Regions from separate parts of the Homo sapiens genome. Here all the other regions are linked to region 2. Evidence: fine-mapped expression QTL. A gene starts in region 2. Each other region holds a variant in brackets. All regions are shown on one strand. Distances are from middle to middle.

Region 1 (2,765 bases), 40 kb after region 2:
AAAAATAAAGAACTTATTCACTTAATTTTCTTTTTTGGTTTTCTTTTCTGTTTTTTTGAGACGGAGATTCGTTCTGTCGCCCAGGCTGGAGTGCAATGGCGAAATCTCGGCTCACTCCCCTCCCACACCCTGTGCCGGGTTCAAGCGATTCTCCTGTCTCAGCCTCCCAAATAGCTGTGATTTTATTTTATTTTATTGAGGGAGGGTCTTGCTCTGTTGCCCAGGCTGGAGTGCAGTGGCCCGATCTCAGCTCACTGCAGCCTCAACTTCTGGGCTTAAGCAATCCTCCCACCTGCCTCATGAGTGGCTGGGGCTACAGGCACACACCACCATGCCCAGCTAGTTTTTGTATTTTTACTACAGATGGAGTTTTGCCATGTTGCCCGGGCTTGCATTCTTATTTTTAAGTAAGTCTTTGAAATCCAGTGTGTATTTTACACTTATAGCACATCTCATTTAGGACTAGCCACATTTCCAATGCTCAGTAGCCAAAAGTGGATATTAGCTACCATATTAGACAATGCATCTCTAAGGGGTGAGATTATCGAAACTTTCACTTTGTATTTTACATATTATTTTGTTTTCCTGAATGTTAAAAAAACCATATATTGCTCATACAGTCAGAAACCATAATAAAATAAAAAGTCAATTGCTCTGAAGTCAGAAAGAATTATGCTTTTGAGTAGGTGTTATACAATAGTAAAAACCAAACAGTAGAAAAGGTTATATACTGACAGTTTTATGTGTGTTCTCTGTGCACTTGTCTAGAAGATGGGCCACAATTTTTGTAGATTATGGTCTTTCAGAAGTGGTCAGTAAACCAAAAAGAAATTTAAAACCAAAGTCAAAGAATTTCAACAACAAAATTCCACAGAATTTAGACAGAGGGTTAATTACTTTGCCATGTTATAATGAGGTTCTATCCAGGCTTCTTGTCAGGAATTAGTGCTAGACAAATAGGAAGCTCTTTGAGGGAGAGAAAAACAACACAGGTTGGGGGACCAGTGAATAATTGCTTCCACTACCCCTCTAGAGGTAAACTACCAACCTATCATCCCTGAAACCAATGAGATTTCAGGAGGATGGACAACATTTTTTAAATTTTGAGACAGGATCTCACTCCGTCACCAAGGCTGAACTGCAATGGCATGATCACAGCTCATTGCAGCCTCAAACTCTGGCCTGAGCAATCCTCCCACCACAGCCTCCCCAGTAGCTGGGCCCACAGGCTTGTGCCACCATACTCGGCTAATTCATTTTAATTTTTGCAGAGACAGGATCTCTCTATATTGCCCAGGCTGGTCTTGAATTCCTGGGCTTAAGCGATCCCCTGCCTCGGCCTCCCAAAGTGCTAGAATTATAGGCATGGGCCACCGCATCCTGCCTAGTCAGAACATGCTTAAAGCAGGAATCTTAAATAGAATGCAATGTCAGCTGGGCACGGTGGCTCACGCCTGTAATGCTAGCACCTTGGGAGGCCGAGGCGAGCAGATCACTTGAGGCTAGGAATTGGAGACCAGCCTGGCCAACATGGTGAAGCCCCATTTCTACTGAAAATACAAAAAAAAAAAAAAATGGCTGGGAGTGGTGGCTCACACCTGTAGTCCCAGCTACTTTGGAGGCTGAAAGGAGGATCGCTTGAGCCTGGGAAGCGGAGGTTGCAGTGAGCCGAGATTGCGCCACTGCACTCCAGCCTG[G/A]GCGACAGAGGGAGACTGTCTCAAAAAAAAAAAAAAGAAAAAAGAATGCAATGTCAGGGCTAGAAAAAATGAAGAATTAACCAACTCAAGATGAGATTCTAAAATATTCATTTTATTTTCCCCCCTGTGTATCAGCTAAATATGAGGAAAAAAAGAGGTGGAAGTATAAATTAATTTCAAGAATATTTTTCAGGTTATTTAGGTAAACTAAATAAATAATAAAGTAAATAAACCAGAAGAAGTTGTGTTTTGTTTAAAAGAGTAGTAAAGAAATCCTTGACGTTTCTATTTCATCTCTTTTGAAGTTTTTCTGAAAGGCAGTAGAACTTTTATAAAAATGATTCATTATATTCTCAATTGAAAATTTAGGGGCTGGGGGCAGTGACTCATGCCTGTTATCCCAGCACTTTGGGAGGCTAAGGCGGGCGGATAACTTGAGGTCAGGAGTTAGAGACCAGCCTGGCCAACATGTTGAAACCCCATCTCTACTAAAAATACAAAAATTAGCTGGGTGTGGTGGCGCACAGCCTGTAATCCCAGCTACTCGGGAGGCTGAGGCAAGAGAATGGCTTGAACCTGGGGGGTGGGGACAGAGGCTGCAGTGAGCCGAGATTGCGCCATTGTACTCTAGCCTGGACAACAAGAGTGAAACTCCATCACAAAAAAAAAAAAAAAAAAAAATTAAAAGAATGCAAAATATCTCATTATTTTTTATGTTGTTTATATGTTGAAATGCTAATATGAATAAATAAAATATATTTTGTCTTTTTAAAATATGGCTATTAGCTAACTTAAAATTTCATATGAGGTACACCTATTTCTCTTGGACAGTGCCACCTTAGCAACAATTTAAAAATCAGTAAGTACCTTTTGCCGGGCGCGGTGGCTCATGCCTGTAATCCCAGCACTTTGGGAGGCCGAGGCGGGAGGATCACCTGAGGTTGGGAGTTCAAGACCAGCCTGACCAACGTGGTGAAAGCCCATCTCTACTGAAAATACAAAATTAGTCGGGCGTATTGTCGTATGCCTGTAATCCCAGCTACTCGCGAGGCGGAGGCAGGAGAATCG
Region 2 (2,765 bases):
TAAATGGAAGAATTTGATTATCCAATAGTTCGTAAACGAATAAACTTGATGATGTTTATAAACCGAAAAGAACTTTAGAAACTATTCAGTAATTTCGTTATTCACAGACGAAGTAACCAAGATTTGAATGAAATAACTTTTCTGTAGCCATATTGGAGAGTGACAGCACTGTTCCTAACAAAATTTCTTAAATGGGACTATAAACTATTAACTAATTCTGACAGTTTGAATATTCATTAACTGTGGAGAGTGAAGATGGTTAAGAAGCCAAGGACACTTGCTATCCTCCCTTACAACTGGTTCCCAAGGAGTCAAGTAACTTCAGAGCTGTATTTTTTGACAATCAAAAAGTCACAGTAATCGTACCTTTTCTGCGTATATACAATGCTACACAGTTCCCAAACGCGTTTTTCACATCATTAGGGGAAAGATTATTAAAACATTCAGAGTTACGAATATCAAGCTGGGCGCCGTGGCTCATGCCTGAAATCCCAACACTTTGGGAGGCCGAGGCGGGAGGATGGCTTGAGGCCAGATGGAGACCAGCTTGGGGAACGAGGCGAGACCCGTGTCTACTCAAACACCCCGCCCCCGCAAAACCAAACAACAAAAACAGTAACTGATATCTTTTACATTTACTTCTTGTTCTTAAAAAAAAACGCTCAAGGCGATTTCTCAATCACTCCTTATCACTTCTGCAAATAATTGTATTATTCCTTATTTACGCAGCAGCGGCAAAATTTGAGGAACACTAGCGAATGTGTCCAGAGCAGCTCATACTCGCTCGCCAAAACCCAAGCGCAGCACTAAAGAAACGGGAGACCCGGCTTCGGGTGACTCGTCCCCCCTTCCAAACGTCAGCACAGTCGAAAACGTGCACCCCGCAGCCTCCACTGCCGCGAGCCACACGCCACCTCCAGAGGGCCGGGGCCTACAGCCTCAAGGGGCCGCCCAAGGAGGCGGACCTGGCGCAGCCCAGGCGTCCGGCCCCTCCCCGCGGCTGGCCCGGCCTCCGGGGAAGCCCCCTTGGTCCCACCCAGGGCCAGGGCCCGCCCCCAGCTTCGCCGGCCTCCTTCCTGTGGGAAGTGCGGCTCCTTTCGCGTCCCCCACCCTCTCGGCTCCGCCTGGCAGCAGCTCCGCCGCCCAGAGGCGTCCGAGACCCTCCGACTCGTGGGTACGCATAGGCCTCGCCAGCGAGCCTTGCCCAGGCAACGAGTCGCCAGCCCGCCCCCTCGCCGCGGGCTAGGTCTCACCTCGCCACCAGTACGTCTTGGACAAGTAGTGCCAGGTCTGATGCCGGGTGTGGTGAGTGCCGCCGGGACCCAGGTGCGCCGCCTCGATGAGGTCCCGGCGTCGCTCCGGCTGCAGCACCACCTCCAGCTCCGCGAAGGTCTTGCGGTGCCGCTGCCGCCGCTGGTAATACAGAGTCCCGCCGCGCACCACGTAGCAGGCGGCAGCTTTTCGGATTTTACGCTTGACATTGCCCTCGGTGCCCGGCGCATACGGCTCGCGCTCGTTCGTCAGGTAACGCAGGATGGCCCGGTAGCTTTCCTCGCTTGACATCGCGGACCGCGGCTCCCTGAGGGCGCCTGTCAGGGACAGGTGAGGAAAACGGCCCGCTACCTACGGGCGGCTGCAGGAGGAGCGGCGGCACCGTAGGGAGAAACGGCTGCGCCTTTGGCGAGCGCTCTTCGACGGCTCCCTTAGTCCGAAGGAAAAGCGGGCGAGTTGGTAACCAGGGGGAACTGCACTTCTCCAGCGCGCGGGATCCGCTGGCGACTGACAAAATGGCTGCTGCACCACCGGAAGTGACGCAAGGCAAGGGCGGGGACTGAGCCCTGATTGGAGCGCACTCTCGTTTTCTGGCTTGATGGAGCCGATCCAGTGACGTCAGGAATGCGGGTGGACATTTTGGAAGCGGGTAGGACCCTTCACTGCAGTTCGAGGGAGTCTTTAAGCAGACATCTTAAGTCCTGGCAGTTTCTCTTTTCATTTTTCCCTTTTCCACGCTTTCTAAGGAGCCACGTGTAGGGGGAGCTGGTGGACAGTTGAGAGTTCAGCCGAAACATCCAGAGGGTTAGGAGTCCGTTTTTACGTTTGAGACTCCCAACATCATAAAAGCATATTTTCAGGCTTCTGGAAAAATATTAGTCTCTTGACACGGGACCAGAGACAGCCCATTTACATGGAAATTTAGATTCCAGTTAACAGTTATAAAATTTTCAGTGCCTCCCTCAGTGATGAGTTATTGTTTCTAAACTTGCACCTGCTAGCTCCAGACTACTCAAGGAAGAGTCGAGATTCTTTTGGAATTATCAGCATTTATAGTCAATGTTATTGCGAGTGGAAAAGGGGGTCGGTAACACTATTTTAAGGCTTTATTTACATATATTTTTACACAAACGTAGGGGAAAAGGTTCTCCATTTTGCACCAAATATATATGAGGGTGCAAGAAGGGGAGCGGACTTGAGCTGCGTCTCCCAGTGCGTGCTGAGGATGCTAATACAGGTATTTAGCTGGTAATCCCGGAGCAGCGACCCCGGTCACCCTTTCCTGGGACGAATCTGCAGCGCTCACAGGGGCCCAGGGCTGACATCCCTCCTCGGGGACTGGGGTTGGACACTGTCGCCGCTTTGCTAAAGCCAGAACATTTCAGGCCGAGGGCTCCAGCTGCAGACACGGCCTAGTACACTTCTCCACCGGAGGGTCTGTAGTCTCTGGGTGAGGCCCTTTGACGCTCCTAGAAGTAGCTGACGGGCAGACA
Region 3 (2,765 bases), 560 kb before region 2:
ATTATTATTTTAAACAATCAACAGTTGTTAAAATAAACAGTTAAAATAAAAGTTATTATTTTAAACAATCAAAATGCTTTAATCAGAACTTGTATGAAGAGTAGATTTGATGGACAATGTAAGAGGAAGCTTTGGAGCCTGATGAGAGGGACTCAAGGGGACTTTTTTGAGTCTTTGAGATGATGTCTCTGCCCATGCCCAGCCTGAAGAAGGGAATTCTAAGAATCACCATTAATTAATATGCATTCCTACCCTACTTACATATGGCTCTGTCAATACCAGTGGTTGAGTCTGATTGTTTTAACCAACTGTTTTGAGCTTGTCTTAGAGCTCACCCCAATTAAAACTTGTACTCTTCAAGAGCATTGACATAGATCTTGGCCTTCTATTTCCATTTTGTCTCTGTTGTTTTATTACAAAGTAACAATTTCTACATACTGTGGCTTCTACAGGTAGGCTTTATTTGTATCTGTGTACACACACACACACACACACAGTATTTTTATAAATAATACCAATTTATAATCATCTGGAGATTAATTTGATAATACTTTATGGTTGAAATTCTCTTACCTATTACCCAGCAATTCTGCTCCTAAGGGAATCATGCATGTATACAAGAAAACTTAAAAGGATATTTAATGCAACATTGTTTGTAATGGCAAAAAATGGTAAACAACGTAATTGTTCATCAGCAGGTAAATAAATGTACTATAGATTATATATGCAATACAAATAGGATTCTGTGCAACAGTTAATATGAATAAATTGGATTTGAAAAATAAATATGATAAATCTCAAAAATATAGTATTGAGTATTAAAAAAACAGAAAAAAATAAAAGTGCTACTCCAGAGAACACATATATGATTAAAAAAAATAAAACGATCTTACTGATGATACAGAGAAAGATTTTGTGGTCTAGATAGAAGATAAAACCAGCCACAACATTTCCTTAAGCCAAAGCTGAATCCAGACCAAGGCCCTAACTATTCAATTCTATGAAGGCAGAGAGGTGAGGAAGCTGCAACAGAAAAGATGGAACATAGCAGAGGTTGGTTCATGAGGTTTGAGGAAAGAAGCTTTCTCCATAACATAAAAGTGCAAGGTGAAGCAGCAAGTGCTGATATAGAAGTTGTTTTTTATATTTGAGCAAAGAAAGTGCTTTCTTGAGATAGAATCTACTCCTGATGAAGATGCTACGAACATTGTTGAAATGACAACAAAGGATTTAAAATATTACATACATTTAGGGGGTAAAGCAGCAATTTTGAGAGGATTGACTCCAATTTTGAAAGAAGCTCTACTGTGGGTAAAATGCTATCAAAAGGATGGTGAAAACGTTCTGTTGATGGATGATGGTAATAGTTGCACAACAATATTAATGTATTCAATGCCACTAAACTATACACTTAAGTTGTAATGGTAAGTTTCATGCTATGTTTTACCACAATAAAAAATCGACTTGTGGTAATGTTAGATTTTGATCTGAACTGCTAAACATCCCTAACGTTGTCCTGTCAAGGGGAACCTCAGCCACCATGAAGCATATGACAAGAAGCCTCCACAAATATGAGCACTTCCCCATTTTACTGGCAAACAAGTGATGGGTCTTACTTGACCAGAATTC[T/G]CCCTTCTTCCACATAGTCTTACAGCTGTTTTAGGGGCAATGTCGAGACCTCATCTACAAGGATACCAGGGCACAGCCAAGGTTCCCTAGTGCCTGTTAACATGATGTTTCTCTTCCTGGTCAGGCCATATATTCCTTCTCTGGAAATTGGTAGGAAGGTACAGTATCTGTGAAGGTTATTCTGTATAATACTTTAGGATGCCTTAATTACTAGTTATAAATATGTTCTCTTGTATATTATGACTTGTTTGTCAGTCTGTACTTGCTCATGCCTTATTGCATGTCGTGTAAAGAAATTTTCATCTATCATCTACTTACTTCCTGTAAGGGGCACTCCTATTTGTTCATTCATTAATATGCTCTGCAGATTCCTTCCATTTTCATGCTCACTCTGTGACTGAGGGCCTAAGTAAGCCACATGGTGCATCAGCTTGGAGACAGATAAGAGGCAACCAGAATCCAGCTGTCAGCACTGTTGTTATTTACCCCAGTGACTATGCCTGTATTTCTCATGCTAGAGTTCTTCCTAGTGAGCGTCATTTTGCCTATCTCCAACAGTGAAAGCACTTGGCAAGTGCCTAACTGTCTTCTCTAAGTCTGAGTAAAATGGAGACAATTATTCTTCCTGGGGTTTTGACAATTAAATGAGAGAAAACATGGCATACAGTTAAACGATAAAGACATTCAATAAATGTTCTATGAGTATATATATGAGTTATGTATCAGACACTTTTTGTGTGCAAATTTTAATCCCTTAGTAACCCTATATGAAACATTTATCCTAGTTTTACTGATAAAGAATCTGAGGCTTGGAGAGGTTAAATGAAATATCCCAAGTTACACAGACTAATTTTACTTCAAGTCTGTGGAATTCCATGTTCCCAGTATCACATCATCCTTTACCAAAGAGCTAATGAACTGAGAAAGATAACACTGTTGGAAATATCTGAGATGTATTAAGACCAACAGTCTTTTAATACTATTCAAATAGGATAGCAAATTGATTTGCCTTCTACCAAGGTTATCTCAGTAATACCTAGCAAGAGATTTGGAGTTTTGTGCATTCTCTTGACCTAAAATTCCATGAACTGATTCCAGTTAATAGAAACTAACTTTCAATTAATAGAAACTACTTC

The links. PIP is the estimated chance that this variant, and not a neighbour inherited with it, causes the effect.
Region 1: its variant is fine-mapped to the expression of ZBTB11-AS1 in whole blood (TOPMed, PIP above 0.99).
Region 3: its variant is fine-mapped to the expression of ZBTB11-AS1 in uterus (GTEx, PIP above 0.99).

The regions. Positions count from the first base shown.
Region 1 is chr3:101,714,865-101,717,629 of GRCh38, forward strand. No RefSeq gene overlaps it. Among named protein-coding and RNA genes, the nearest start is that of CEP97, 8.4 kb to the right of the region's middle. The variant G/A (reference allele first, on the strand shown) is at 1,698.
Region 2 is chr3:101,675,352-101,678,116 of GRCh38, forward strand. ZBTB11-AS1 (ZBTB11 antisense RNA 1) reads left to right here and starts at 1,079. Exons shown (of 1, transcript NR_024407.1): 1 at 1,079-2,765. It overlaps ZBTB11 (zinc finger and BTB domain containing 11), which reads right to left and starts at 1,781. Exons shown (of 11, transcript NM_014415.4): 1 at 1,254-1,781. The coding sequence starts at 1,563. LOC124906262 (endogenous retrovirus group K member 5 Gag polyprotein) reads left to right here and starts at 1,094. Exons shown (of 3, transcript XM_047449415.1): 1 at 1,094-2,765. RefSeq lists a silencer at 833-1,202 and an enhancer at 919-1,473.
Region 3 is chr3:101,116,094-101,118,858 of GRCh38, forward strand. No RefSeq gene overlaps it. Among named protein-coding and RNA genes, the nearest start is that of ABI3BP, 120 kb to the left of the region's middle. The variant T/G (reference allele first, on the strand shown) is at 1,630.